3 separate regions of the Homo sapiens genome follow, and all the other regions are linked to region 3. Evidence: fine-mapped expression QTL. A gene starts in region 3. Each other region holds a variant in brackets. All regions are shown on one strand. Distances are between the middles of the regions. Region 1 overlaps LOC124900486 (a long non-coding RNA gene). Region 2 overlaps LOC124900486 (a long non-coding RNA gene). Region 3 holds the start of KLF8 (KLF transcription factor 8).

What was found.
Region 1: its variant is fine-mapped to the expression of KLF8 in whole blood (TOPMed, PIP above 0.99). The same link has a PIP of 0.9 or more in blood mononuclear cells.
Region 2: its variant is fine-mapped to the expression of KLF8 in whole blood (TOPMed, PIP above 0.99).

What each region holds. Positions count from the first base shown.
Region 1 is chrX:56,061,372-56,072,198 of GRCh38, reverse strand. All of the region lies in intron 1 of LOC124900486 (a long non-coding RNA gene), which reads right to left. It also overlaps a transcript of KLF8 not described here. Among named protein-coding and RNA genes, the nearest start is that of KLF8, 170 kb to the left of the region's middle. RefSeq lists an enhancer at 5,676-5,935. The variant T/C (reference allele first, on the strand shown) is at 6,032.
Region 2 is chrX:56,111,706-56,122,532 of GRCh38, reverse strand. All of the region lies in intron 1 of LOC124900486 (a long non-coding RNA gene), which reads right to left. It also overlaps a transcript of KLF8 not described here. Among named protein-coding and RNA genes, the nearest start is that of KLF8, 120 kb to the left of the region's middle. RefSeq lists an enhancer at 7,790-8,289. The variant C/T (reference allele first, on the strand shown) is at 4,013.
Region 3 is chrX:56,227,612-56,238,438 of GRCh38, reverse strand. It overlaps KLF8 (KLF transcription factor 8), which reads right to left and starts at 6,083. Exons shown (of 6, transcript NM_007250.5): 1 at 5,098-6,083. The coding sequence starts at 5,104.

The DNA.
Region 1 (10,827 bases), 170 kb after region 3:
TGGTACTGTTATTTAACATTAAAGAGCTCTTTGCAGCTTACATTTAACTCAAAATCTCGACTGTCCTTTTCACCCAGAAACTTCAGGAAGAATAAAGAGAATTAGTGAAATTGTAATAATGTAACTGTCCAAAACTGTAGTAACCCTCAAACTTCCAAGGCACAAAAAGTCATTCTTATCTGCTAAAAGTAACTTCATACCTCTTAAGGACCCACAAGTTATCTCCTTATGAGTTATTAACAGGCTGTCTCATGCAGTGTCATGAGAAATTTCACTTCCAATCCTGTATTCTAGTCTATTACAGGCTAATGACAGAATAATACATACTACTCAAATGATATCTCCAGCTTTATTTACAACAAACACAAGGAACATTTTCAAAACTCTTACCTAAACATTCTCTGATTGATTCACAATCCTGGAGATTTGGTCTTCTGAAAAAGGCATCAAAGAAAAACTGTTGTTGGGCTTCAATTGAAGTGACCAAATTAGGTACTGTTTTATTCATTTACATATCAGTAAAACTCTAGTGTTGATCCTGGGATTCATGTTTCTTCACTTAAATGACTACTAGACTTTATTCCACTAAAATAATTTAAACTGAGGATTATTAAAAATCCTGCACAAGCTGCTGACTTCAGAAGTGAAAAGCTTCTATCGAAGACAATGAACAAAATTAATTTTCTCATTCTTCAACATCCTTTTTTGTCTCTTTGCTTTACTGATAGTTTTGTCTATAATTACATTTTGATACCTCCTAGAACACTAATATAATTTATTTTATATTCCTTCTATTATTTTGAACCCCTGTGATCTTCTTATGCCACTTAAAGAAAATAAAAGAGCTCATTTTTCCCACTCCATAGCAACTACTCTGAACTTAGCTGATTGCTGAATCTTCTACCTCATTACGCTGATAAAAATTTAATAGTTTTTTTGTCTTTTAATACTTCAAATGGTAGATTACCTTTAATTACCTTCTGGTAATTAAGTTTCCTTCATATCTCAAATTCAGTCTTGAAAAATTAGACCTTGACTTTATGACATCAAAATGCTTCTGCTGAGGTTATTACAATCCTATGAGCTATTGGCCAATCCCATGGCCAATATGAAAGACACTAATATCTAGGTTATCTATTATACTCAGTCTGTTCTCTTCAGTGGCACTTCAGCCTGCTTTGAAAAACTATTTCACTCTTCACAGGATGTTTGTATACTAGAGGAACATAAAATTAGCTGTCTCCTATTAGAGTAAATGATGCATATATTCCCAATACAGTCTGTGCCATAATAGGATACTGTTTCTTACATGAGCATCAGGCTTACATGTGACTACCTTATATTTACTTAGCCAATGTATTTAGTTAGATACATTCAGATATTTAAAAACCACCACATGTTCTTTTTTTATTATTTTACTTATAGTTCCAAGATACATGTGCAGAACGTGCTGGTTTGTTACATAGGTAAACATGAGCAATGGTGGTTTGCTGCACCTATTGACCTGTCCTCAAAGTTTCTTCCCCTTGCCCCCACTCAACAGGCCATGGTGTGTGTTATTCCCCTCCCTGGGTCCATGTGTTCTCATTGTTCAACTCCTACCTATGAGTGAGAACATGTAGTGTTTGGGTTCCTGTTCCTGTGTTAGTTTGCTGAGGATGATGGCTTCCAGCTTCATCCATGGCCCTGCAAAGGATATGATCTCTTTCCTTTTGATGGCTGAATAGTATTTCATGGTTTATATGTACCACACTCTCTCTCTCTCTTTTTCTTTTTTTAAGAAAATTTACTTTAAGATTTGGGACACCTGTGCAGAACGTGCAGGTTTGTTACATAGGTACACATGTGCCATGGTGGTTTGCTACACCTATCAACCCATCATCTAGGTTTTAAGCCCCACATGCATTAGGTATTTGTCCAAATGCTCTCCCTTCCCTTCCCTCTAACACCCCGACAGGCCCCAGTGTGTAATGTTTGCCTCCCTGTGTCCATGTGTTCTTTTTCAACTCCCACTAATGAGTGAGAACATGCTGTGTTTGGTTTTCTGTTCCTGTGTTAGTTTGCTGAGAATGATGGCTTCCAGCTTCATCCATGTCCCTGCAAACAACATGAACTTATTCTTTTTTATGGCTGCATAGTATTCCATGGTGTATATGTGCCACATTTTCTTTATCCAGTCTATCTTTGATGGGCATTTGGGTTGGCTCCAAGTCTTTGCTATTGTGAATAGTGCTGCAATAAACATATGTGTGCATGTGTCTTTATAGGAGAATGATTGATAATCCTTTGGGTATATACCCAGCAATGGGATTGCTCAGTCAAATGGTATTTCTGGTTCTAGATCCTTGAGGAATCGTCACACTGAAGCAGGACTGCTGGGCAGGACCGCTGGGCAGGAAGCTGGGCAAGACCGCTGGGCAGGAAGCCGGGCAAGACTGCTGGGCAGGAAGCCGGGCATGACTGCTGGGCTGGAAGCTCTAGGGGATGTGGCACATCTGGCTACAGGAGATGGGGGTGGGTGGAGTTGACTGCTCTGGCATCTGGGTGTTTCCAGGGCAATAGGGGGCTGCACCCCTTAGCAAATTCAGGCAGAAGTAGAACTGCTGGGCCAGAAGCTCGATCAGGCATGACTCACCTGGCTACCAGCAGTGGGGGTGGGTGGGGATGCCATCCCTACTGTCTGGGTACCTCCTGGGACAAAAGGAGGCTGTGCCCATCGGCTGAGTTTCCACAGAAGCGGGCTTACTGGGCCAGAAGCTCTAATACACATATCCCACCTGGCTACTAGTAGTGGGGGACAGCAGGGTGGGTGTTTCTCAGGACAACAGGAAGCTGCACCCTCTAACCGAGCTCACACAATAGCAGGGCCACTGGGTCAGAAGCTCTAGTGGGCATTGCATTCCTGGCTCTCAGTGGCAGGGATTAGATCAGTGGGGTCATGCACCCTGCCATCCAGGTGTTTCTCAGGACAACAGGTGGCTGCACACTCCAGCTGAGTTCCCACAGATGCAGGACAGCTGAGCCAGAAGTTCTAATAGGCATTGCCCACTTGGCTGTCAGTGGCATGGGTGGGTGGGGTCACCTCTCCTGCCATCTGAGTGGTTCCTGGGACAACAGGAGGCTGTGCATGCCAGCATAGTTCAGACAGAAGTGAGGCTGCTGGGCTAGAAACTCTAATAGGTGTTACCTGCTTCATTAATAGTGGTCAGGGTGGGTGGAGTGTCATGTGCATGGCTGACCAGGTGTTTCCCAGGATAACAAAGCTGGGACTTCCACCTGACTTTAGAAAGAAGCAGGGCTGCTGGCCTATAAGCTCTAGCAAGCATTACCTGCATGGCTATCAGTGGTGGGGGCAGGCAGGGTCATGTACTCTGCCATTTGGATGTTTCATGGGACAACATGAAGCTGTGTCCTCCAGCTGAGTTCACGCAGAAGCGGGGCTGCTGTGCTGGAAGCTCTAGCATGCATTGCTTGCCTGGCTACCATTGGCAGGGGTGGGTGGGGTCACACATTCTGCAATCCAGGTGTTTCCTGGGACAACAGGAAGCTGTGACCTCTAGCTGAGTTTACACAGAAACGAAGCTGTTGGGGCAAAAGTTATAGCAGGCATTGCTTGCCTGGTTGCCAGTGGTGCGAGTGGGTGGAATCATACACTCCAAAATTTGGTTGTTCACCAAAACAACAGGAAGCTGTGTGCTCCAGCTGAGTTCACACAGAATCAGGGCCACTGAGCAGGAAGCTCTAGGAAGTGTTGCTCACCTGGTTTCCAGTGGCAGAGTCGGGTGGGGTCATGTGCTCTGCCATCCAGGTGTTGCTTGGTAAAACAGGAAGCTGCACCCTCTAACTGTGCTCAAACAGAAGTGGGCTGTCGGGCCAGAAGCTCTAACAGGTGTTGCCCACCTGGCTTCCAGTGGCAGGGCAGGTGGGGTCACACACTCTGCCATCCGGGTATTTTCCAGGACAACAGGAAGTGGCACCATCCAGCTGAGTTCACAAAAAAGCAAGACCACTAGGCCAGAAGCTCTAGCAAGCATTGACATTCTGGCTATCAGTGGTGTGGCTGGATGGGGTCATGTGCCCTGCTGTCAGAATGTCTCCTAGAACATCAGGAGGCTTCACCCTAAAGCTGAGTTCACACAAAAGGGAGACCATGAGGCTGAAGGCTATATCAGGCATTTCCACTTTGGCTACCATTGGCAAGGTGGGTGAAATAGCTGGCCGAATTCAAGCCAAAGTAGGACCGCTAGGCTAGAAGCTGGTGCTGAGCCTCTTCCAGCAAGGGGAAGTAAAGCAATCTTACTGCTCCCAGATACTGCCACTTTGGCCTCTATTGGAGCTATGGTGCAAGTGCTGGTGTTTTCTAGGGCCCAAGGCTTGTAGAAGTCCCCTTGGACTCGAGAGTTGCCTGTGAAAAAGTCTGAACAGTTTTCTGCCTCAGTCTTAGAAGTGTAGGAGGGGGACGGGGGAAGGGGGATTCTCCCATTCCTAGTCTTGCACAGGTCCCTGTTGGAGTGTGAATCTCCCTAGGTGCTCTCACTCACTCTTTCTCATATTAGAGAGGTTCTCCTGGCTCTCTGCTGAGTCCAGGCTGGCTGTTGACCAGCTTTGATCCTCTGCTCTCTGTGTTCCCCTGCTGCATTGATGGATCCTGACCTGGTTTCTCAGAAGATCAACCTGCAGAGTTAGTGCTCACTAGCCCTTTTGTTTCCTTTCTTTGAGAACAGCACACATGAGCTGCCTCTAGTCTACCATCTAGGCACTGCCTCTCATGCAGGTAAAAATGACCCAATTACTCAGATTAAAAGCTTCCAAAACCATTCTGAGTTCCTAGACACTATTCAAATGAAAAATAACAAAAATCTGATATGTAAAAAAATAGGCCTGACCTATTGGCTACAAGAGTTCAAGGGGATTTCAAAATTTTTTTGGGAAGAAGCTTTAAGATGGCTGACTAGAGGCATCTGGTACTCACGTACTCCACAAAGACGAATGGAAGACGTGAGTACTGGATGCCTCTAGTCAGCCACCTTAAAGCTTCTACCACACAAAACCAAATTAGTGAGTAGACAGTATCATCTTGAAGAGATCACCTAAGACAGAATGCTGAAATTTAACAGAAAAAAGACAGAAAACATTTAAGGCAAGGGAGGAGAGAGAAGCAAGGTAGTCTGCTTGGTCAGAATTGGCTTGGAGCCTGGAAAGGATCTTCAGTTAATGGAAAGTGAAAGGCTGCCAGCAGTCCAAATTCCCAGCATGATCTTCTGCAATCCTAACCATTGTAAAGCCCCTTGGCCCTTGTAGGCCTGGAGACTAATGTAGGGAGTGGCCTGGAGAACACATTGTGACACTGCTCCACAGAAGAAGCTCACTCTGTGTCCCAAACACCTCCTGAGTCCTAGGCAGTTACAAGGCACCATTTGGAAGGTCTAGTCCCCATCAGACTGCATCCTGCCTTAGGTCTCAACAGTTTTTGTATATTCACATCCTTGGAGCCTAATTGATATCCTCCACCCACATCCAGGTACCACTGCTGGCTAGTGCCAACAGGATTAAAGCAGGAACCATTAACAGTGAGCCTGCTACCCCCAGTAGCAGGACCAACACACATGTACAAGTGCAATGAAGACAAGCTACCCTGCTTGCAAAAATCACCTGGTGCTGAAGTATATGCTCCCCAGCTGCATGCCTAGTGCTGCTGCCAATGCAAGCAACCTCACCCTCCTGAGCATCAGGGAAGCAACAAAACTACTGCTGCACCAACCTGCACATACTGCACATATCCAGGCCCCTGTCTACCATAGTCGGTGCTCACATGAACCACTGAGGGGCCTGAGAGCAGGCCCATCTGGCCCAACTATGCCCCTGCAGAGCCTGAGGCCAACATCTGGGGGCCTGGGAATCACCCTGCCCCATTCATCACCTTTGACATCTGAGCACTCCTCCTAGGAGACTGAAGAACACCCAACATGCCACGACTGCAGCTGGCACCCACCCACACAAACTGCAAGCTTGAGTACTTTTGTGCACAGCA[T/C]ATCACAGAAACCACCAACACTAGAGGAAACCACCTGGGAGCCAGAGTGTTGTTCTGCCCTTATTACTGCCATCACTCATGCTACACCCTTTACCCAAGGCCCCAAAGACTCACTCACCCACTTGGGCAAATGGTGAAACTGCCTGTACCTGAGCAAGCTGTTTGGGGTCCAACAAATCAGCCTACCTAGACCTGCTGTCATTGGGGCCCAAAACTAGGCACACTAAATCCACTGCTGCCACATTGGAAGCCTGAAGACAGGCATACTTGGCATTCACATCCACACACAAACATCACAACAGCCTCTATTAGCAACTGCACTATAAACCACTGAAGAAATCATAGCAATAACTGCTGTTTACAGTCAAATAACTCATACAAGGACTATATTACTGCAAACACCCAGAATCAAACCCAAAGTTCCCTACCCAACCAACAACATAAATCCATCTTTAAAAAAAACCCATCTTTGTGAAAATAAATTCAAAAAATTGAAAGAAGCTATTTGTACATTAGATACACAGATATCAACATAAGGACACAAGAAATATAACAAAGAAAAGACAACATCTCCAAAGGAATGCAACAACTTTCCAGCAACAGATCCAATGAAAAAAAATTATGAAATCTTAAAAAAGAATTGAAAATGGTATTAAAAATCTCAAAAAGATACAAGAAAACAGATATTATTTTTAAATAACAATTTAAGATATTAATGAGAAATTTACAAAAAATAGATATCATAAAAAAATCTGGAACTAATTAATTCATTGAATGAAATAAAAATATATTTGTAAGTTTCAAAACTAGGCTAAATCAAACAGAATTTCAGAACTTGAAGACAGATCTTTTCAAATAACCCAGTCAGAAAAAAACAGGAAAAAATTAAAAAGAATAAGGAAAGTCAACAGGACATATGGGACACCATAAAGTGACTAAATATTCAAAATTGTGATGTCCCAGAAGGTGAAGGGGAAACAAAATAAATAGAACAGCTATTTAACAAAATAATAGCTGTAAACTTCCTAAGCCTAGCAAAATGTTTAGATATCTAATACATAATAAGCAGAAATTCCAAAATATACACAACTAAAATTTCTTCCCCAAGTCACATTACAGTCAAACTGTAAAAAGTCAAAGAGAGAATTCTAAAAACCCCCAAAAATGCACATAAAGGCGCATATAAAGGAACTTTCATGAGACTAACAGCAAAATTCTCAGCAAACCTTACATGCCAGGAGAGAATTGGATAATATATTCCAAGTGGTGAAAGAAAAAAAACTGCCAGCCAACAACGCTATACCCAGTAAAGGAACTTTTCGTAAATGGATGAGAAATAGTCCTTCCCAGAAAGGCAAAAGCTGAGAGGGTTTATCACCACTAGAATGCCCCTACCAGAAATGCTTAAGAAAGTCGTACACCTGGAAGTGAAAGGACAATAGCCACCATTATGAAAACGCATAAACATATAAAACTCACTGGTAGAGGAAACACAAAAAATAATAAAAAGAAAGCACTGAAATGGTACCACTACAGAAAATCACCAAACCCCAGTGATAAATAGAGAAAAATAAAGAAACAAAGAATATATAAAACAACGAGGAATCAACTAATAAAATGACACAAGCAAGTCCTGACATATCAATAATAAGCTTGAATGTAAGCAGGTTAAATTCTCCACTTAAAAGATATTGACTGGCAGAATGAATTTTTAAATGACCCAATTATATGCTGCTCACAAGAAACTCACTTCACATGTAAATGCGTATCTAGTAAAAGTAATGGGATGAAATAAAATGTTCCATGGAAATGAAAACCAAAAGCAAGCAGGAGTAGCTGTACTTAAATAACAGACTTTAAAGAAAAAAAAGGCAAAAAGACAAAAAGTATTACACAATAATAAAATAATAAATTCAGCAGGAGAATATAATACCTCCTGAGTCCTAGGCAGCTACAAGGCACCATTTTGAAGACCCACACAAGACTGCATCCTGCATATATATATATATACACACACACACATATATATGTATATACATATATATACACACACATACGTATATATGTATATATGTATATATACACACACATGTATATATGTATATACATATATATACACATACATGTATTATATACACATGCACATTCTATATATATGTGTGTGTGTATATATATATTGATATATATGTACATATATAGAAGGTCATAAACCTGGAAGTGAAAGGATAGTATCCACCATTATTAGAACACATAGGGAGCCTACTGCAGCTCGGTGAAGCTGCCATAGCCATACTGTCTCTCTAGATTCCTCTGCTCTGGGCAGGGCATCTCTGAAAGACAGCAGCCCCAGTCAGGGACTTACAGATAAAACTCCCATCTGCCTGAGACAGAGCACCTGGGAGAAGGGGTGGCTGTGAACACAGATTCAGTGGACTTAAACATTCCTGCCTGCCAGCTCTGAAGAGAGCAGGGGATCTCCCAGCACAGCACTTGACCTCCACTAAGAGACAGACTGCCTCCTCAAGTGGGTCCCTGACGCCCATGTCTCCTGACTGGGACACACCTCCCAGCAGGGACATCTCATACAGGAGAGCTCTGGCTGCCTTCTGGTGGGTGCCCCTCTGGGACAAAGCTTCCAGAGGAAGGAATAGGCAGCAATCTTTGTGTTCTGCAGCCTCTGCTGGTAATACCCAGGAAAACAGGGTCTAGAGTGGACCTCCAGCAAACTCCAGCAGACTTGCAGCAGAGGGGCCTGTTAGAAGGAAAACTAACAACAGAAAGGAATAGCATCAACATCCACAGAAAAAACAACCACACAGAAACTTCATCTGAAGGTCACGAACACTAAAGACCAAAGGCAGATAAATTCACAAAGATGAGGAAAAACCAGTGCAAAAAGGCTGAAAATTCCAAAAACCAAAAGGCCTCTTCTCCTACAAAGGATCCAAAATCCTCACCAGCAAAGGAACAAAACTGGATGGACAATAAATTTGATGAATTGAAGGAAGTAGGCTTCAGAAGGTGGGTAATAACAAATTCCTCAGAGCTAAAGGAGCATGTTCTAACTCAATGCAAAAAAGCTAAGAATCTTGAAACAAGGTTAGAGGAAATGCTAACTAGAATAACCAGTTTAGAGAAGAATATAACTGACCTGATGGAGCTGAAAAACACAGCACGAGAACTTCGTGAAGCATACACAAGTATCAATAGCCAAATCGATCAAGCAAAAGAAAGGATATCAGAGATTGAAGATCAACTTAATGAAATAAAACATGAAGACAAGATTAGAAAAAAAAGAATGAAAAGGAGCAAACAAAGCCTCCAAGACAGATGGGACTGTGTGAAAAGACCAAATCTATGTTTCATTGCTGTACCTGAAAGTGACTGAAAGAATGGAACCAAGTTGGAAAACACTCTCCTGGATATTATCCAGGAGAACTTCCCCAACCTAGCAAGACAGGCCAACATTCAAATTCAGGAAATACAGAGAACACCACAAAGTTACGCCTTAAGAATCATCAGATTCACCAAGGGTGAAATGAAGGAAAAAAAGTTAAGGGCAGCCAGAGAGAAAGGTGTGGTTACCCACAAAAAGAAGGCCATCAGACTAACAGCAGATCTCTCTGCAGAAACCCTACAAGCCAGAAGAGAGTGGAGGCCAATATTTAACACTCTTAAAGAAAAGAATTTTCAATCCAGAATTTCATAACCAGCCAAACTAAGCTTCATAAGCCAAGGAGAAATAAAATCCTTTATGGACAAGCAAATGTTGAGAGATTTTGTCACCACCAGGCCTACCTTACAAGAGCTCCTGAAGAAAACACTAAACAAGGAAAAACAAAGACAAAAACACAAACAAAAAACAAGGTACCAGCCACTATAAAAACCTGCCAAATTGTAAAGACCATTGACACTATGAAGAAACTGCATCAACTAACAAGCAAAATAACCAGCTATCATCATAATGACAGGATCAAATTCACACATAACAAAATTAACCTTAAAAGTAAACGGGCTGAATGCCTCAATTAAAAGACACAGACTGGAAAATTGGATAAAGAGTCAAGACCCATCACTGTGCTGTATTCAGGAGACCCATCTCACATGCAAAGACACACCTAGGCTCAAAATAAAAGGACAGAAGATTAACCAAGCCAAAAAGAAAAAAAAAAAAAAAAAAAGCAGGGGTTGCAATCCTGGTCTCTGATAAAACAGACTTTAAACCAACAAACATCAAAAAAGGCCAAGAACATTAAATAATGGTAAAGGGATCAATGCAACAAGAAGAGGTAACTATCGTAAATATATATGCACCCAATACAGGGGCACCCAGATTCATAAAGCAAGTTCTTAGAGACCTACAAAGAGACTTAGACTCCCACACAATAATAGTAGGTGACTTTAACACCCCACTATCAATATTAGACAGGTAAACAAGACAGAAAAGTAAGAATATTCAGGACTTGAACTCAGCTCTGGACCAAGCCGACCTAATAGACATCTACAGAACTCTCCACGCCATATCAACAGAATATACATTCTTCTCAGCACCACATTGCACTTATTCTAAAATTGATGACATAATTGGAAGTAAAACACTCCTCAGTAAATGAAAAAGAATGGAAATCATGACAAACAGCCTGACAGACCACAGTGCAGTCAAATTAGAACTCAAGATTAAGAAACTCACTAAAAACCACACAACTAGATGGAAACTGAACAACCTGCTCCTGAATGACTGCTGGTAAATAACGAAATTAAGGCAGAAATAAATAAGTTCTTCGAAACCAATGAGA
Region 2 (10,827 bases), 120 kb after region 3:
AAACTCCTTCATCTCTCCTTAAAGTAGGTTTGTACAAAAGTATCAGAACAGTATTATTAATACTATCATCAGTATAATTGAATGCATACCAAGTATCATATATTTTGCATATTGTATGTCATTTATTTCCCATTTTTATGGTAGCATCATTTTGACAGAGGAATAAACAGATGCTGAAAAAGGTTAAATCACTCATCCAAAGATACTCAGCTGATAAGTAGTGGGGCCATGATTGGAATCCAGATTTGGCACATTCCCAAACTTTTTCACTTTGGCATGTTGACTTCCAAGTATAATTTGTTCACATTTTGTTTTTTTCATATATGTCAGTCTTACCTCCTCAAATAGACCATTAACTGTCATTGAGTATTCTTTTTCACCCCTCCCACAGCCCATACCACAAGGCAGGGCACAAAACAAATTTTATTAATGTCCTAGTGAGTGTTTCATAAACCTTTATGGCTTTATTATCATTTCAGTTAATAAGGAGTAGAGAATAATCAAGCAATGACAACCTTAATGATAACAAAAATTATGAAATTTTACTCAAAACATGTTCAGAGAAAAAACTATCACCCAATTTTTGCAGATGTAGATACTGATTCCATAAATGTTTATTGAGTATCTACTAAGTGCAAGGGTTTGCACAATAAAGACACACACACAGTTGGAAATGATTTTTCCTGGGATTAAGTAGGAGTGTTTCCTTCAAATAAGGACCTTTCTATTTATGACCATAGTTACTAAGGACTATCAACTACTTTCTGAAGTATATGATAAGTCACATCAAACTTACATAGGTACTGTGGCAATAATGAAAACCATCAGGCCCTGGCTGTGGCAAGTAGCCTTTATTTGAATCTAAAGTTCAGCCAACATGGGCCATGTGGCTTTTCTCCAAGAATCATCCTACTGGGATGCTAAAGAAAAGCTGAAGAAGGCAGAAACATGAAAAGATAAATCACAATTCTTCTCTGTCTTTGGGAAAAGAATTTCCGGGTCAGAAGAACTGAGCTTTCAGGGCAGTCTGATAAAATTACAGCCACGTGAAAACTAAAGGAGTCAGGATATAAGTCCAAAAGCAATAAATAATGCCAATAGACAAGTCAGTCCTGCCCACTCAGAAACGTTCTCTTTCCTCTCCCCTTTCTTCACTTTTCTCCCTTTTCTCTAACTGCAGGCTATTCTTTCTCCAACCTCTTCCTTTCCAGCCCTTCTCTCCATCCTTTCTCCTTCCTTTGCCCTTTATCTTTTCCTTTCTTGATTATCCCTTTCACAGTCATAGGCAGGAAGCCTTATGTGTGTGGTGTCTGAATTTAGTGTTTTCCTTTTTTTTTTTTTTTTTTTGAGACGGAGTCTCGCTCTGTGGCCCAGGCTGGAGTGCAGTGGCGGGATCTCGGCTCACTGCAAGCTCCGCCTCCCGGGTTCACGCCATTCTCCTGCCTCAGCCTCCCGAATAGCAGGGACTACAGGTGCCCGCCACCACGTCCGGCTAATTTTTTGTATTTTCAGTAGAGACGGGGTTTCACTGTGTTAGCCAGGATGGTCTCAATCTCCTGACCTCGTGATCTGCCCACCTTGGCCTCCAAAAGTGCTGGGATTACAGGCGTGAGCCACTGTGTTCGGCCCGGAATTTAGTGTTTTCTTTAGGTCCAGGGCATGCTACAGTCACCCTGCTCAGAAGCTAGCAGGATTACTTGAGAAAGAATGAAAAAGGTCAAACTCTCACCCTCACTTGGAAACATGCCCTCTAAAACCCAGAATTTATGCTTCCTTGAGCCTCAAAGGGGAGGAGGTGGGGCATATTCTCTTTTTCTCTCACCTTCATACAAAAGAAGAGGGAAAGGCCCTAGGTGGTGGGTGAGTGAGTGGCAGCAGGAAGGGATGACCAAAAGCATGTTTCTGGAGCTAGCAATAACACTCATCCCAAGGCCTAAGAGACCATGGGAATTTCTGGAGAGCTGGTATAAATGGAGGAAATGGGGTAAAGCCATTCAGGCTGGGGACATTTTTCTCTTTCATCTCTCTTTTGAGCCCTTCATGCAGGAACCAAGAGCACAGACAAATAGTTGGACACCTGGCCAGCTGCCTGGAATGGTCTCTTCCTTAAGGGAGAGCTTAGCCACTGCACAAAGGTCAGCTGAATAGTGGGAAATAGTGTTTGTTTAAAAGTCGAAAAAACTCAGGGAAAATTTCCTGTATTACCAAAGCTGAAAAATGAAATCCTAAGCCTTCAAGAGGGCTGTAGCTTGAAGTCCCTGGACATTCTACCTAAAGCTGGGCACTGTTAGCATCAGGGTTCGGATTGGGTGGCATAAGAAAAAGGAGACAAGGCAGTGGTGGCATCCAGAATTCCCACATCGGAAGAGCTTAGGTAAGTTGGGTTGGAAAAAAAGTAGGAGACTAAAAGACTAGTTTTGGAGCTCTATTTGCACTGCAAGCATACTGTGGGACTTACATTGTAGATTCCAGATTAGTTAAAAGTAAAGTTTCCAAAGATACTTTTAAACTAAAAACTAAGGATAATATATATATATATAGCCTTTCTAAACACCCTCCGCTAGTGTAAAAGGGCCGAAATGGAGTAACCATCAACTACGTGGACTTCCAAATTTTCTAGTACCCAAAGAATACTTGGGTACTACCTTATGGCTCCTACCTTATGCAGATCCAGACCTAAACTTGCACAACCCATTCTTCTGCTTGCAGGCACACTGGAGAAGTCAGCCCCTTCTGTAACTGAGAAACTAGTCAGCCTACAGAAACTAGACTACGTTAAAACAACAACAAAACAACCCCAAAACCTAAAGTTTTTTTAAAATCACTAAAAATAGGCCAGGCGCGGTGGCTCACACCTGTAATCCTAGCACTTTGGGAGGCAAAGGCGGGTGGATCATGAGGTCAGGAGTTCGAGACCAGCCTGGCCAATATGGTGAAACCTCGTCTCTACTAAAAACAAAAAGTAGCCAGGCATGGTGGCATGCGCCTCTAGTCCCAGCTACTTGGGAGGCTGAGACGGGAGAATCGCTTGAACCCAGAAGGCAGAGGTTGCAATGAGCCAAGATCACGCCACTGCACTCCAGCCTGGGTGACAGAAGGAGACTCTGTCTCAAAAAATAATAATAAGCGGAACCTGGTGTGATGATTGCTCTGTCACAGCCAGCTTGCTTCAGCTGGCCTCCCCTGGGATGCCTCCTCAGCTCTCCCATTAGGCTCTTTGGGGATCAGGCAGCAAAGACAGAGGCAACCTTTTCATTCTCCCACCATGACCCTCTTCCTCCTTTTCCCACTTTAGCAAAGGAAATAAAAGCTCTCTTCTGTCAAAGCGGACCCCAGTAGGAGGAAAGAAGGCTCTGTGGGAAGTAGATCAGTCTCTTTAACTTCTCTTCCTTCTGTCTTTCACATACAGGCCTCCTCTCTTCAAACTATGACAAATACTTTTGATTCCATGGCTCAGATAAGATAATCCCTCACAGATTTAAGAAAAGCTATCCTGGGTCCTGCAAAACAGAGTTACATACAACATTCTCTCTATCTACACCTTCTCCAGGAATTTCCTCCTATTTGAGACTTCCTACATCCTGCCCTTCCTCCTCCCAACTATGAGCCTATGTGAACTATATAAAGTTTGTGACTGAAATATACATATATACAACAAATGAATATATAAATACAATCAAAAACAATCTAAATTAGAAACTTCAGACCAGCAGAGCTGTATACTGCTTCAGAAAAAGCTTGCGTTATGTAACCAGAAGGAAGAACATTATTATTGGCAAAATTTTATCACCCAGAAGAAGTTTTTCCATTATAGTTTATTGATGATTAAATTACAATAACATTTGCACTAAAAACTAAGAGATTTTAGTGCAAATCTAAAATCTAGTGGAAGGATTTGAAATTAAGAGTTAGGAGACTTAGGCTTTCAAGTGTGACCCTAAACAAATCATCTAGTCTCTTTAGGCCTCAGTTAACTCAGGTCAGAATCTCCACTCTACCTATCTCATACAAA[C/T]ATTGTAGTAAACAAGTGAAAATAAGACTGTGAGGGCCTTAGAAATCGATACATAAAATGTACTTAAGAATAATACAAATAGTAATGATAAGTATTTATAACTTCTATTTCAGACCATTTAAGGTTTATCTGACTTTCTGAGTTGTTTATGGCCTAATGGAATTCACCAACTCCATTCTCATAGCGCATATTAACAGTAATAGCTGACTTATATTGAGCAATAGGTGCCAGATATTGTATTAAGTGCTTTATATATATACACACACATTAGCTCCTCTGCAACTCACAACAGCCCTGTGGGGTAGGTAAACTGAGTATGAGAAATGTTAACTGTCTAAGGTCATACAATTAGGAATTGCTATAGTCTGATTTTTGTCCCCCCTTCCTGCCCTCATTCTTATGTTGAAATCCTAAGTCCCAAGCTGATGGCATTAGGAGGTAGAAAATTTGGGAGGTGATTATTTCATGAGGGCTCTGCCCTCACGGAATGGAATTAGCACCCTTATAAAAGAGGCCTTAGAGAGGTTGCTTGCCCCTTCTGCCATACCAGGACCAGGAAGTGGGCCCTCACCAGAAACCCAATATTCTGGCACCCTGATTTTAGACTTCCCAGCCTCCAGAACCATGAGAAATAAATTTCTGTTGTTTATAAGCCACCCAATCTATGGTACTTTGTCCTAGCAGCTCAATGGACTAAAACAGAGGTGCAGAGGTTAGCACTTAAATTTAGGCAGTCTGACTTCACTGCTGCCCCACACTGACACAAGGATTAGATTAAACAGTTAAAGATAAATGAATTTGAAGAAACACTAAAAGACAGTTAATCAAAAACATGATCCAATGTGTTGGTCCTGCAGTTGTCTTGCTTCAGAACAATTTAACATTTTACATATGAGTATCTGAAAGTGGCATATTTAATAAGAATGTAGAATAATTGTTTCACTGTTCCTAATGAACAGTTCTGATTGAGGAATAAGCTGAAATCAATGGCAAACTGAGGTTCTTTCTGTTTTTTTTTCCCCCAGAGATGATAGAGCACAATAGAGCAGCCAGGGTAGACTATATATTCTATGAGGACAGGATCATGCTTTTGTCACAGAATGCAAAAATTCAGTGAATACAAAACCTCAATTTTGTCTAAGGCACTTGCATCTCCTGCTCAGCACTCAGCACAAGCCTTGCAATAGAGCAGATGCTCAGGGAATGTTTGTTGAATAGATTTGATTTCAAAAAGGAGCATGCTAATGTTCATGAGCAAGTTCAAATGTATATAAGGGGGAAGTTGAAATGGGAGGATAGTTACTTGTACTGAAATGTGTTAGGACTGTTATATCAAAGTCTCTGGTTCTCACAAGGTATTTCATGGCTTGGAGAGTTCTACTTTTTTTCCCTTCTTTTTTAAAATTAATAGAGATAGGGGTCTTGCTGTGTTGGCCAGACTGGTCTCAAACTTCTGGCATCAAGTAATCCTCCCATCTCAGTCTCCCAAACAGCTGGGATTACAGACATGAGCCATCATGCCTGGCCAAGAGTTCTAACTTATTAGAAAGTTCACTCAAGAACTCATGTTAGGAATTTATTAAAGCATGATATTGCACCAAAGAAAGTATAGATAAGAGTTCTAACATGTTACAATGTTTATGAACTGTTAAGGTATTTTAAAGGCAGAACATTTCAAATGCCTAGTGAGCTAAGGTACAGCATGGTGACTATAGTTAATGATATTGCATTGTATACATGAAATCTGCTAAGAGGGTAGATCTTAAATGTTCTCACTACACACAAAAAAAGAAAATACGGTAACTGTAAGGTGATAGATATGTTAATTATCTTGATTGTGGGAATCATTTCACTATATATATATATATATATATATATATATATATCAGAACATCATACTGTATACCATGATATAGACAATATTTTATTTCTGAAGTATACCTCAATAAAGCTGGGGGAAAAAATCCCACATCCAGCTGATGCCCATCTTCTCTCATGACCATTCCTCCTCCAGCTTTCCAGGCCCTTTTCAGGAACTTGCAAATTCTGGGCCTCTGGCTATAACACTGATTTCTGGCAGAAAAGGCCACCAGGGTGAAAAGACTTCAGAATTAGCTCTCAACTGAATGGAGATGAGGGTAGTTATTTTTCACTAGCTCTTTCATCAATTCTTCTCATTGGATCCCATCAGGCTACCTTCTCTCTCATAAATACTATATTGCAACAGATCCAGCCTTTCTCTCAGAATCCCGGGCTGGATCCTCCTCATCACACCTGTTCCTGCCAGGTACAGCTCCATATGAGCATTCAGGCTTGCAGCCAGGATCTCTTTGGCCAGATGCTGGACCTCAGACTGCCAAAGCAGTTTCACGCCATGTAGTAACAACTTTAATTTTAGAGCAGAAGCAGTCTGGGCCCCAAGGCAAAGAGCTAAGAAAGCACAGAATAAAAAGTCAAATCAGGGAAGAAATGCTGTTCTATACAAAAGCTGACCATCAGTTAGATGAATTCATATTTAACAAAGTGAACCTGGTAACTTTAGTGGGAGAATTCAGTAATGGAATAGCTTTCACATGGAACAGAAAAGATAGATGCTTGAAGCCTAACTCTTCTCTTTATTAGCTCTGTGACCTTAGGTATGGTACTTACTTGCTCTGTGTATCAGGTTTCTCATCTGAAAAAAGTGGTAATAACAGTATTTACTTTATAGAGTTGTCATGAATATTCAATGAGATATTCCATATAAAGTTCTTACAAACTTGCTTGACACAAGGTAAGTACTTGCTAAATGATATTATTATTATGGGAATATCAGCTTTCGATCCTGCTTAGCCGGGTACCACATCAGTTTACTAAAGGTATATCTGGTGCACTGAAAGATATTTTACTACATAATGCCTGCCCTCATGGCCTGAGGGCACTCCCAGCTTGCTTGTTCTACACCTGTGAATGGTAAGGTCCACTTCTATCACTAATTAACTGGGAACAACATCACTCCAAAATGCATAGGGAATAAAGATTCCTTTGATCATGTTTTCCAGTATGTTAAAGAAATTTTAGCTGTCAACTGCCAAACCTAGACTCAATAACAAAAATCCTCAGCAGATGCTCCTTTCCAGATGTGTTGGCTTCCATTTTGAGAATGAGATAAATCAGGACTTGAGTCTCAGAAAAAGAATTCAGAGACTATCTAACCTTCCCCTTCATGACTTTGACTATTTTTTACTTAATATATTTTTTAAATGGACTTACCTAAAAAATGATTTCTTGTGTGTGATGGGGTTTTACTATGTTGCCCAGACTAGTTTCAAACTCCTGAGCTCAAACAATCCTCCTGCCTCAGCCTCTAGAGTAGCTAGCATTACAGGCACATGCCAGCGTGCCTGGCCAAAAAAATAAATAAATAAATAAATAAATAATTTTAAGAGAAAAACATAATCTTACCACAAATAGAAAATTCCTCCCATATGTAGTATACATTCAAGGAAATCCATAACTATTCAAACTTTTTAAAATTTGACAAGAAACAAAGAGTTGTATAATTTTTTCATTTTATAGATGAGACAAACTGAAGTGTGGAGAAAAGACCACACACAATATAAGTCAGCGTAGTGAGTAAAAAGTAAAACGGAAGCCAACGCTTCTGATGCCAATTTAAGTACTCTTTATGTTACTCTTTATATTATGCTACCTTTGATCTGTATAAAATTGTAATGCTTTTTCCTACCACTCCACATATCCTTCACTTTTGCCTGAGGCAACTTGGGGAAATATGTGATTTCTAAAACAACTAACTAAAATATTTCTTAGTCCTTGATTCTGCTCTCATATCAGATAGGCAAACTAAAGAACAAGGAAGTTATTTGATTTAGCCCAGGCATTCAATATAAAAAACTATGTCTATGTCCATATGCAATATGAGGACGGTCATTCCACTTTTCACACCTCTTGGCACAGGTAGTCACACCCAATGTCTACTGTTTTGCCTGCTGGATAATAGAATTCCACAAATCAAAGTTGCAAGAGGTCATATAATTGCAAACTCTCTTTATCTGACAAATGAGAACACTGAAGTTTAGAAAGAAAAACAAGCACTTGCGCAAGATATTCCAGTAAGTTCGCAGCAGAGCGATATCTAAAACTAGAGGAGGTCCTTGGGTCCCAAGCACAGAACTGTGCAGACACTTGGCGGCCGCTAACATTGCGCCCAGGGGCAGCACGCTGGAGATGGCCTAAGATGACCGACTTCCTGGGGGGAAGGGTTGGCTGCCATCACTGGGGCTCCAGTAGGCCTTTATCCCCTGTGGGTGCCAAGGAGACTGGGCGGTTTGGATCAGTAGGAACTCCCCACAGTGTAGCACAGCAGCTGTGACCAATCATGGACAGACTGCTTCTATAGGTGGGACCCGGATCCATCCCTCCTAACCGGGCGGGGCCTCCTTGCGGGAATTTTAGCAACTCCAGCCAGGGATTTACAGACAGAACTATGATCCCCCTGGGACAGAGCCCCTGGGGGTAGGGCCAGCCGCAGTCTCCCATTCAGAGGACTTAGTCAGTCCCCCTGCTAGCTCTGAGGAATCCGGACAATCCAGAAGAGTGGGATTCCCCCCAGCACAGCTCACCTGCTTAGCCAAGGGGCCAGACTGCTTCCTTAAATAAGCCCTTGATCTCCTGCATCGTGACTGGGTGAGACCTCCCAACAGAGGTCACCAGACACCTCATACAGCTCTGGATGAAGGGGACCTGACATATATCTACAGAACACTCCACACACTCTACCCAAAAACAACAGAATATACATTCATATTAGCATTGAAGGAGTTCTCAAATTCAAAACCGATCTGTAAAGACTTGACTAGCAGTGTGTGTGCGTGTTTGTGTTGTGTGTTTTTTCATTTCTTTTTTTCTTTTTTCTCCTTTTTAATTTTTTTGTCTAGACATCACAAAAAAAAAAAAAAAAAAAAAACTATCCCTGCCAGGTCACTGTCTGACCACTGAAATAGTAAAATGGAGACTTCAGTAACAACACAAAATAATAATTCTATATTTTGCAAAAATTAGTTTGGAAAAGTCACTATACAAATGAAAGCCCACAGCTCATAACAAGCACCAACAGCAAACCTAGGGAGGGGAGAAAACTCTTATTTTCAGAGTTACCACATAACATTTAAAATGTCCAGTTTTCAACAAAAAACAAGGCATACAAAAAAAAAAACCATGAAAGTATGGCCTATTTACAGGAAAAAATAAACAAAAATTATCCACAAAGAAGTCTAGACATTCAACTTCCTAGACAAAGACTGTCTTTTTTTTTTTTTTTTCTGAGATGGAGTCTTGCTCTGTCGCCCAGGCTGGAGTGCAGTGGCATAATCTCTGCTCACTGCAACCTCTGACTCCAAGGTTCAAGCCATCCTCGAGTAGCTGGGACTACAGCCATGTACCACCATGCCCAGCTAATTTTTGTATTTTTAGTAGAGACGGGGTTTCACCATGTTGGCCAGGTTGGTCTTGAACTCCTGACCTCAAGTGATCCCCACTCCTTGGCCTCCCAAAGTGCTAGGATTACAGGCATGAGCCACCATGTCCAGCTGCATCAACTGGCTTAAACAGGCTCACAGAGGTTAAAAAGAAAACCTTAAAAAAATTAAAAGCTACAGAAAACCAGGAAAAGGATTTCTGAACATAATACCAATAAAAACACATTACAAAAAGAACTAAAATAAAAATTTTGACACTGAAAAGTATAATAGTTGAATGAAAATTTCACTAGAGGGGATACAAAGCATATTTGAACTGGCAGAAGAAAGAACTAGTGAACTTGAATATAGGACAATGTAAATTACCAAATCTGAGGAGCTAACAGAAAATAAGAATGACAAAAAATAAACAGACCTTAAGGGTTGTGTGGGACACCTTCAAGCATACCAACATGTGCATTATGGAGGTCCAAAAGGGAGAAAAGGGAGAATGGGGTGGAAAGAATATTTGAAGAAATAACAACCAAAAAATACCAATTTGTTTTCTTTTTTAAAATTTTTTTTATTATACTTTAAGTTCTGGGATACATGTGCAGAACGTGCAAGTTTGTTACATAGGTATACACATGCCATGGTGGTTTGCTGCACCCATCAACCCATCATCTACATTAGGTATCTCTCCTAATGCTATCTCCCCCAGCCCCCCACTCCATGGCAGGCCCCAGTGTGTGATGTTCACCTCCCTGTATCCATGTGTTCTCACTGTTCACCTCCAACTTATGAGTGATAACTTGCAGTGTTTGGTTTTCTGTTCTTGTGTTAGCTTGTTGAGAATGATGGCTTCCAGCTTCATCCACATCCCTGCAAAGGACATAAACTCATCCTTTTTTATGGCGGCATAGTATTCCATGGTGTATATGCACCACATTTTCTGAATCCGGTCTATCATTGATGGGCATTTGGGTTGGTTCCAAGTCTTTGCTATTGTGAACAGTGCCACAATAAACATACGTGTGCATATGTCTTTATAGTAGAATGATTTATAACCCTTTGGGTATATACCCAGTAAAGGGATTGCTGGGTCAAATTGTATTTCTGGTTCTAGATTCTTGAGGAATCGCCATACTGTCTTCCACAATAATTGAACTAATTTACACTCCCACCAACAGTGTAAAAGCATTTCTATTTCTCCACATCCTCTCCAGCATCTGTTGTTTCCTGACTTTTTAATGATCGCCATTCTAACTGGCGTGAGATGGTATCTCATTGTGGTTTTGATTTGCATTTCTCTAATGGCGAGTGATGATGAGCTTTTTTTTCATATGTTTGTTGGCTGCA
Region 3 (10,827 bases):
CAATGGTGTGATCTCGGCTCACTGCAACCTCCGCCTCCCAGGTCCAATCGATTCTCCTGTCTCAGGTTCCTGAGTAGCTGGGATTACAGGCATGCACCACCACACCCGGCTAATTTTGTATTTTTAATATAGATGGGGTTTTACCATGTTGGTCAAGCTGGTTTCGAACTGCTGACAGGTGATCCTCCTGCTTTGGCCTCCCAAAGTCCTGGGATTACAGGCATGAGCCACTGCGCCCGGCCTAGAATTCTAGAATTTTAAGGGAAATCTGATTTTGAAATATTGGCAATCAACCAACTTTTAAAAGTGTGGGACTAGGCAATTTGACACACTGCTATGAACTGACTTGTGTTGTGTCCACTCTCCAAAAAAAAATTAATAGGTAGAAGACCTAACCTAGTGACTATATTTGAAGATAGGGCCTTTAGGAAAGAAATTAAGGTTAAATGAGCTCATAAAGGTGAGGTTCTGATCTGATAGGATTAGTGTCTTTCTAAGAAGACACACCAGAGAGAATTCACTCTTTCTCCTCCCATTTGTACAAAGATCACATGAGTACAAAGTGAAAAGGTGGCCTTCTACAGGTCAGAAAGAGAGTCCTCATGAAAATCTGACCATGTTGGCACCCTGATCATGGACTCCCAGCCTCCAGAACTGTGAGAAAATACATTTCTGTTGTTTAAGCCACTCAGTCAATGGTATTTTGTTATGGCAGCCTGAGCTCTCTAATGCACTGCTTACAAAAGTTTTTATTGTTATTACAAATAACACTGCAAAAGTTTGGAAATAACTTAAAGATCAATCAACAGAAAACTGTTTAAAAATTTGTGGCTCATGCATATAGTAAAAACCTATGCAGTCATAAAAAAGAATGAGGCATTTAAAAAATGTGCATATATGAAAATATCTCCAAAGTATATTTTTAAGTAGACAAGCAAGTTGTAGAGAACAATATGCAGAATGTGTTACTATCTGTGTATAAAAGGTGAAGGGGATATATATATACACACACACACACAAACACACACACACACACACATATATATATAATAGAAACTACCTCATAAGGTTGCAGTGAAGAATAAGTGTGTTAATTTTGTAAACACTTAGAAGAAGGCATGAAAGTGAAGTAAGCAGTGAGAAAATATAGTTGTTGTGGTACTTACATATATACTAATATTATATATGTATTATATATAATATGAGCTCATCTAACCTTAATTTCTTTCCTAAAGGCCCTATCTCCAAATACAGTCACAAGCTTAGGTATTAGGTCTTCAATGTATGAATTTTTTTGGGGGGGATGGGGGGGTCACAATTCAGTTCATGTCAGTATGTCAAGTTGCCTAGTCCCACACTTTTAAAAGTTGATTGATAACCAGTATTTCAAAATCAGATTTCACTTAAATTCCTAGAATTCCAGTTTCTTTTGAATAATCAGAAGATACTGAACCATATATATATATATATATATATCCATCTATCTATCTATAGAAAACCAAACATGATTTCACATTATCTTTGAGTAAACAAATGAGCCCAATACTACAATGTTATTCACACACACACACACACACACACACACACACAAACATACTCATTGCTTGATATACACTAAATATCCCTGGAGAGATTCCTAATAAATAGATAACATTAGTTGCCTCCAGCGAGGCAAAATGGGTGGCTAGAGAACAGGAATAGGAGGGAGACTTTTTTCACCATGCACCCTTTAGTAAATACTGAATTTTGAGCCAGGCGGAATGCATTACCAATTGAAAATGCATGTTTTAGTTGAAAGTTTTTAAATTTTAGGGAAAACAAAACACGTGTGAGCTTTAGTTGGTCTGTAGGCTAATTGTTTGCACGTCTCGCCTAAATTAAGGTGGTGGCAGTTAGAATAATAATAAAGAAACAGATACCAGATACAAAGGGGAAAAAATACAACAGCCATTGGCATCTAATTAAATGAGAAAATGAGGAAGAGGGGAAAGGGACATGAGTACCACAACAGCTACATTTTCCCACTGCTTCACTTTCATGCCGCCTTCTAAGTGTTTACAAAATTAACACACTTATTCCTCACAGCAACCTTATGAGGTAGTGTCTATTATTATCCCCAATGCACAGATATGACAACTAAAGTACAGAGTTTAAATAAGTTCACCATTACTATGGTCATAGTAAGTTGCAGAACCAGGGAAGTGAAAGGAAGAGTCTTGAATGAGGAATGAGTGAAGAGTCCAGAGGTGATGATGGGCTGTATATTAGAAATGGTGAGTGTGAGGTTACAACAAAATGTCAAATTGCTAGTGATTTGAAATATCTGGATTGGGCTCTTGAGTTAGGTTATTGCTCCTTAATAATCCTAGAGCTTAGTTTGCCCACATCACATCTATTTTGTCTAAATACACAAATAACATCTTTTAGTATATTATACAGAACATCTAGCACCTTTCATATATTTAAATCCAGCTTCCTGTCCACTAATCTACATTCCACTTCTGCAAACACACAGCAGCATTTAAATAAAACAAATTTTTTTAAATAACAAAAATGATGAGACCGCAACTTATGAAACATATTAGATATCAGGCACTGAGTTCAATGCTTTCCTTACATTATTTATAATCACAAATTATCATGTCATTTTAGAGATGAGGAAACAGGCTAAATGATGAAACTCAGTTGAGGATAGTAAACATTAGCATATAAAAATCAGGAAGAGGTTGGGCACGTGGCTCATGCCTGTAATCCCAGCACTTTGGGAGGCTGAGGTGGATGGATCACCTGAGGTTGGGAGTTCGAGACCAGCCTGACCAACATGGAGAAACCCCGTCTCCACTAAAAATACAAAATTAGCCAGGTATGGTGGTGCATGCCTGTAATCCCAGCTACTCAGGAGGCTGAGGCAGGAGAATCACTTGAACCTGGGAGGCGAAGGTTGCGGCAAGCCGAGATCACGCCATTGCACTCCAGCCTGGGCAACAAGGGCGAAACACCGTGTCAAAAAAAAAAAAAAAAATCAGGAAGAATACCAAACATGATCTCACACTGTCTTTGAATAAACAAATGAGCCCAATACTACAATGTTATTCCCTTATTCATACTCTACTTAACAATAAGATGGTAATCATACTAGATGATCATCTATGTCAATCATCCTAATTAAGTTTTCCTTCATTCACAAAATCATGGCATTGTAAAGCTAGATCTTAGAAGATCATATACTGCCCCCACCGCACCAGGCACAGACAATCTGGCAAGATCAAAAATGACTAGGCTCTGTTTGCTACTTTGGTTATTGGAATTCACTTAGCCAATGAGAACCCCACCTCAGAAATGCATGTATTAGAACAATGAGAGTGGTGATGGTAGTCTGCTACATGGTTATTTTTTTCCCAATTTCCAATGTGCCCTGAAAAGTCTAAACAAGAGGGATGTATAGCTCCTGAGGGCTCTGAAGGTACAGCCATTAAGTAAGTTGGTCTTGAGGGTGGACTACATAGATGCACCTGTCATTTTTACTTTTGAGGTTATTATTTCTACTCTTCCTATGTTTTCTGCCTGTCTGCCCTCCAGGCTTACCTGAAGACATTGCTCCCCACCCATTCTCTGTGTCCCCAGCAGTCACCAAAGGTCAACAACTCTCAAGGGCTTCCCCATAACTCTGAAGAATGGGATGAGGTCATTTACCTATCACTTGTTTCTGTTGTCCAAAAGTCCTGTTGGTTATATCATTCTGGTTAAGTTGCCCAAAGAATGAGAGAAAAGGCAGGCTAGTAGCCCTTTCTTTCAGAAGTGATGAAGTCTGGTGGAAACAATGTTAAATCAGAAGCAAATAAAACCTGTGTTCTAGCCTCAGCCTTTGGACAAACTAATTCAGTCTTCCTAAGTTTCGTTTTACCACATCTGGAAGGTGTTTTAAGGACAGAAAAACACTAATTTTATCAGCAGTGGTCCAGAAAAATAGTTCCAAACTGAGTAGAAAAGGGAAGTTGAACTAAGATACAAGTGGCAGCCTCTGCCACATACACAAGATATTTCATCCACCCGAGTATCTACTGAGATAGAATTATTAATCTGCATTCTATGGAAGAGAAAAGCAAGGCCCAGGGTGATGCAGCTAATAAGTGGTGATACTAGGGTTTCAAAGCAGATTACCCCAAACCATGGCAATCTCCATCAGTTTCAAATCCAAATTTAAAGATTATTCTTTTTGCTCAATTATTACCACACTGGGTGACAGGTGCTTAATAAATGCGTTTCTTCACGATGAATATAATACCAAAAGAAATAAGACATGGTGCCTTTGGCCACCTGTTTGGATGTGATTTATTTTTTCCCAAATTCTTAGGGTTAAAAAAAAAAGCCCACAAAAAGACAGCTCCGCCAAGTGGCTAAACAAATGGATTCACTTCAGCAATCACAGCAACTCGGCCCAGTCAGTCTTCCACCTACACAGACGAACCAACTGCCTTGGCCACGTCTTAAAGGGCCGGAGCAGAGCCTAGGCTCTGGCTTCCTTCTCCAACCAAGCTCAGCCCCTCCTTAAAGAGCTGGCACGCCCAAAGCAGCTCCTCCCCCGCAGCTGCTTCCAGGCCTCACTCTGTGCCTCCAATAGCCTAACTTTGCACCTTAAACCACTGTCCCCTCCTCCTTCTTTTCAGAAGCTTCTCTAGGTACCCGCTATGGCTTCAGGGGGTTACCTGGGAGCTTTGGCCTTGTGAATCCTGTTCTCTCTGGTTGTGACTTTGGCTGTGTGGGGTTAAGTCAAAGACAATCCTTACCGCTTAAGGAGTATTGGGAGTGCCGAGCCAGGGGAGACTAGACTAGACAAATCCATCCATTCTTGCCCCCTTTCACTTCTTCCACCAAGCTCTCTCCTCTCCTTCTTGGCCTTTCTTTGCCCAGCCCTTTAGCAAAGTCATTTTCCCTTGAGTTTCATTTGATTCCACATAGTGTTCTTAACCTTCCGCTCCCGCCCCCACTGCTGAAACCCCAAGTGGGGTGTGTGGGGGGAGCAGGGGGACTGGGAGGGGGATAGAATCTAGACGAAAGAGGTGGGAGTGGGTGGGTATTAGTCCCAGAGTCACTTACCGACCATGTCACTAGCTGAGGACTCCTGAAGTGTCCAGAACTCATGCCGTCCTCCGGGAGGCTCATACTCCTGAGCTGATCGCAAGAGAGCTGTTCCCCTCACACCCGCCCCATTCTGACATAGCGCAGGGCGACGCGTTCTCGTCTTCTCGTTCTTGGGCCCCCACTCCCCTATTTCTCCGGGCTGGAAAATGAGGAGGGGGTCGAAAGGGGAGGGAGTCGATTCAGACCCAGCTGGGCCACTCTCGGAACAAGGGAAACAAAGCTCTCAAGCATCCAACCCAAAAATCAGGGGCCGGCAGAGTAGACTTCCTAAAAAGAATCCTCCCCCCTGCAGCTTTTCCTTGGACAAAAATAAAGTGGGTTCGCTGGGCCGAAGTGGCCAGAGCTTAAGGTCCTCCGTTCCCCTTTTACCTCTACCAATTCAGTTCCGGCCAAGCCCGCTCTCCACCCATCCTCTGAACTCCACACACCCTTTAAAAGGAGAGGGCCGGGGGTGGGGGCTATGAAAACCAACCCAACCCCCAAAGCGCTACTTGAACATAAAGTTGAGGCGGAGAAGAAATCCTTCAAGACAGGAACCCACGAGGAGATACCACAAGAGGATCCCTTCACCGCCGCCGTTGCCGCCGCACACCCCAGCGCCTTCCTAAAAAGAAAGAAGGGAGGAAAAAAATGCCGACGATTGGTAGAATCATAGAGAAGAACACCAGCCCCAGGGCAGGGGCTTCAGCGAAAAATGGCAGCAACTCGTGCGGGTCCTCTGGGGCGGGGTTTCTTGGAGGCACCTAGCTGCCCCACGGGGTACCTCGCGCCCCACGCGAGTCAGAACCTAAAGTGCTCTCTGGGCAACCTGAGTGGGTAGAGTGATTCCGTCTTTCTCTGGCCCTGCTAGGCCCAAAGGAGAGGTGTGACTATCGTGAGGACTCCACCTAGGGTGGAGTTCCTTAAAAAGGACAGGCGGCCGCTAGAGGAGAGTGCAAAGTGGGAGGAGGTGGAGAAGGGTGGGGCTGAGAAGGAGGAGGGAGGAAGGAGGGGGTGGGGCGGGGCCCTGGGCCGACAGAGCTGGCCTCGCCTCCGGCGGCCGCCTCCCTCAGCCTCCAGCAGCGGCAGGTATAATTCCAATCAATTTCACTTCCTTATCTGTCCCAAAATTAAGGCTTGCAAGCACACTGCTTGATTACCTATTTACTCCGGTTATGCTAATTCTCCAGGGGAGGGTGGTGAAACGGGTACTGGGATTGGGGCTGGGGGCTGTCTAAGAGGGAAAGGAGAAAACAAAAAAGCTGACAACTGGAAGCGATATTTATCCTCCTACCTCTCCATGGTAACACGAACAAGGACAGCGAGGTCACAGTGTCTTCTCAGGGAGGAAGCTAAAAGGAACGGAGATTGGAGCTTGGTGCATTTTCTAGCAAGAGATAAGCCAAGGAGGTGAGGGCGAAGGAGTAGGTGGGGAAGAAGAAGGAGTTGAAGATGATCTGTGAATACAGCGTGGCCCAGCAGGGAGACTTAAGAAAGGCTTTCTCAGTCTCCCAGATACCAGACCTCTAAGAATAGAGTTCTCAACCCCCTGAGACCGCCTCTCAGCCAGGCATTGGCGAAGATCCCCGTAAAGCTGAATCCACAGGATAGGAGCCATGTTTCCAGGATTTCTTTACGCTTGCCTGAAAGTCTCTCTCTAGCTCATTTTAATGGGAGGCCAGGAAGTCACAAGCAACCACAGCCCATTTTCAGTGCCTCTTCCCTACCACAATTCTTTTAAAGAGGAGGAAAAAGAAGAGAGACAAGAAACAAAGCAGAGGGAGGAAGAGCAAAGAGACAGGAGAAATAATAATATCTGCCATGTATTCAGCACCTAATATGGGCAAGTCCCTGAGCCAGGTGCTTTTACATTCAACATTTCCCCATTTAGTCCCAATAACAACCCTGGGAACTAGGTACTGTTATATTCTCTGTGCCCTTTATTTAAAAAAATAAGGAAACGGAAGGCCTCAGCCCAGTACTTTCGAACACATAGGTCTACTTACTTAGTTGATATTTCTGCCTGAATGTCTTCTGTGCATCTCATCTACCTTCCTTTCCCCAAAACACTCTGTTCTTCCTCCTGTAGTTCACCAACTACCTGAATGGCACCACCATACATCCAAGGCAGCACCCTGGAACTCATCCTTTAACCTGCTGTGATCTGGCCTTTGTCTGCCTCTCAAGCAGCAGAGATTTTGCTGTTCTCCTGGGCTTTACCTGGATTACAAATCCCTGGGAATTCCAAGCTGTTTCCAATCTCTATGCCTTGGGTTGCTTTACTTTCTCTGACTGAAATAGACTAAGCTCTCTGTCCACCTTTTTTTTTCTTGCATGTCCTTCCAATGAATCTGTCCACTTTCTTGAAAGGACTAACTCAAGGTCATCTCCCCTCCTTACTTAATTTCTTCAGGCAAAACTGACCATTGCTTCCTCTGTGCCCTTCTCTACCTCGGGGCACATATTTGTTGGTATAATTGCCTCCCCCTACTAAACTATAAAGTCCTTGAGCTGAAGCACCAGGCGATCTCATTTCTGTAACTTGGATGCCAAGTTATATTATTATTAACAATAATAATAGTTATTGAGCATTAACTATGTACTAAACTCTGTTGTAAGCCTCTTATGTATATTAACTCATTGAATCCTTCTGACAATCCTATGGGTAGACATTGCTATCCCCATTTTACAGATGTGGAAACTTAGTGACAGGTTAAATAAATACACATGCATATGTATTTGTTTCATAAAAGAATGTCCCTGTAGTAGGGGTTTCATAAATAACTCTCTATCTCACTATATCTCTTCACCACGACCTGCACCCCTGCCAAGCTTACAAGGTAAGATATATTGAGATGGAATCATACAGAGAAGTGTACAACTCTCTATGCCTTCATTTAAAAAATTTACTTTATTCCTTGGAGGCTTTGTTTCTCAATGTATAAAATTTGGGGAGTATTATCCAATATAGGATTCTTACCACTACAGCACTGTTTTGAGCAATGCTGAAAAGTTTTCTCTTAGATTCAAGTGTGTGAAAGACATTAAGCAGTTTATATCAATAATAAATGCATTTTTGTGATGTGCAGATGAAAATGAGTAGATTGCTGAAGTAACATTTTGAAAAGAGTAGCCACTACTAGCCCTGAATACAGTGGGTGTGCCTTAAGGTCATCGAGTTACTTTTTCAGTCTGAAATAGCTTTTCAAGAAGGTCGATCCATACACAGATAGCTTAACAGTTTATATTTTATTAAAAGTCTTTATTGTTGACAAATTTATTTTAAGCTCTAGCTTTTTGTTTGTTTTAGAAATACTGCCTCAACTTTATTTGTGGGGAAAACTTAGACCTTAGATGGCAAATTCAGTTTTTGGAAAACTTGAAGTTATTGAAACTTGGAAAAACAAACCCAAGATCCTTTCCCATCTGTTCTTTCATCTATTCAGTCAATAAAATGTATTGAGCACCTGTGCTTTATCAAGAACAATGCTAGGTGTTGGGGGGCGGTGGAATGAGAACATCCATTCTAAGAGGCTCCAGTGGATGAACCCTCAATTTCACTGTACGCACACAGCCTATTAGTCCACATTTCCCCTTCAAGTCCTTTAGAGATGGCCTCTGTCTCACTCAAATTAGGACCCAAAGATGGTTCACAGGGAACTATGAAACCCATGACCACAGTTAATGTCAAAGGCAGGAGTTTGCCTTTATATTCTTTTACTCTTGACACATAGAAATAATCAGCATGTGGTTGGTGTTGTCTATGTCACACGAAAGGGTGTGAGGGAGCAGGTATGGGGAACTAGAAGTTTTGATAAATTTCCCTGTCCGTCTAGGAAACACCTCAGGCTCTCCTTTCTTTAGCTGGCTAGAATAAACATGAACCAAATAGCAACCTGCGATATTTTCAACTCCTTCCATCCCACCTTATGCGTGAGGGAGACTGCTTGAAGAAGCAGCCTGTGCTTTCCTCTATATATCCAAGTAATCAGATGAGGAGTGTTAAATTAAGTGTGGAACCTAATGAAAAGCAGCTGAGAAATATGCAGACACGATTCTGGGCCCACATATGCTGTTCTTCCCTTCTTCTCTTTCTCCTCTTCATCATCCCGCTTCTCCTCCTCCTGAAAGCCAGCTGACAAACTACCAGGGTGGAGCCCAGTCTGAGGGCTGGAGGGAAGGGAGGAGGAAAAGCCTCAGTAAGAGGACTCCACCCTCTCTGCTCCCAGTAGAACAACAACAATAAAAAAAAGAAGGCTTGAGAAGCTGGGCCTGACAGGAAGGTGGGGCAGAATAGGGCAAAGTGAGGAAGGGTGGGTAGATGGGAGGGGAGTTAGGACCTCAGCTGGGTAAAGCTGGGCTGGGGAATGAAAGGGAAGTCAAGCAATATACAAACAGAAAAATCTGCATTCATTAAATCACTGTTGTTTGTGGAACAACAAAAATGTAGCTAAAACCAGGGCATAGTTCAGACCTAGTGGGAACAAAATTGTCCTCCTCACCCACTTTTCTTCTTATTCCACAGTTCCCCAGAGAGCATATTCCTTCTGCGAGCTCAGCTAGAAGGAGACCTTTTGCCCCTCCGCTAATGTTGAACCAGTGTTAAGTTCCTCACATGTCCCAGAGGACAGCACTAAGGTTACTGCCAGCAAAGGATAAAGATATTTTGGAGAAGGAAATCTAGTTAGCTGAGAGAAGAAAGCCTGGAAGGAGATTGCGGGGATAAAACAATGATTTAGATTGCAAACTGTGCAACCCTGGGCAAGTGCCTTCACATCTCTAAACATTTCCTCACCTATTTCTTTTAAAGATATTACTTCACAGAATTGTCAAAAAGATTAAATAAGATGCAGAGGTGGCTTTACAGTAAAATTAATGAAGCTTAAGCTTTACGCCCCTTTCCAAGACTCCAGAAGGGATCAAACATTGTGTTTTTCTTAAAGATGGTCCCCAAAGTGGTATAAGCTTCCAGCCCCACAAAACCTAGATTGGCCGCCAATGAGATTATAGCCTACAAAGCACAGTGTCTGGCACAAAGAAAGCTCTCAATAAAGGTTAACTAATATTCATAGCAATGGCAACTGTGAAAACTACCAGCTTTAGGTTGAGTCTCTTTCTGGTCATAGATATTGAGAACATGCTCCTGTGTTCCCCATAACCCTTGCCACTGTATGTATAAATAAACCAGTTTATAAAAATCAGCAACTAAACTGCTTGCTTGAGACATTCAGAGGCATGATTAAATTTGGTTTAGGAATGGCCAATGGGCCAGAAACATGTGGCCAGGGTTTGAAATTCTGGCACCGCACCATCCCAGACAAGCTCTAGCAGGCCTGCTGAGTCCTATAAATTTAGTTGTGCCTCAGGCTGCTATCTTTATGAGCAAGGAGCTTGACTAGGTGTGTGTGTGTGTGTGTGTGTGTGTGTGTGTGTGTGTGTGTGTTGGGGCTAGGGGGTTGAGTATGTATGGGTTTTTAACTCCATTTTAGACCCTAGATACCACCACACCCATAAATTGGAGGAGGGAAGAGGGAAGAGACTTTATAATCAACAATCAAGTCAAACCAGAAAAACTGCACCTGCAGAAAAGGGATAACATCCTTGGCCTTGTCCCCAAAGTGTATATTCCTGAGTCAGGGCAAGAGTCTATTGTGTATACAAGAAAAAGACTTGCAGGCTGGGCACCGTGGCTCACGCCTGTAATCC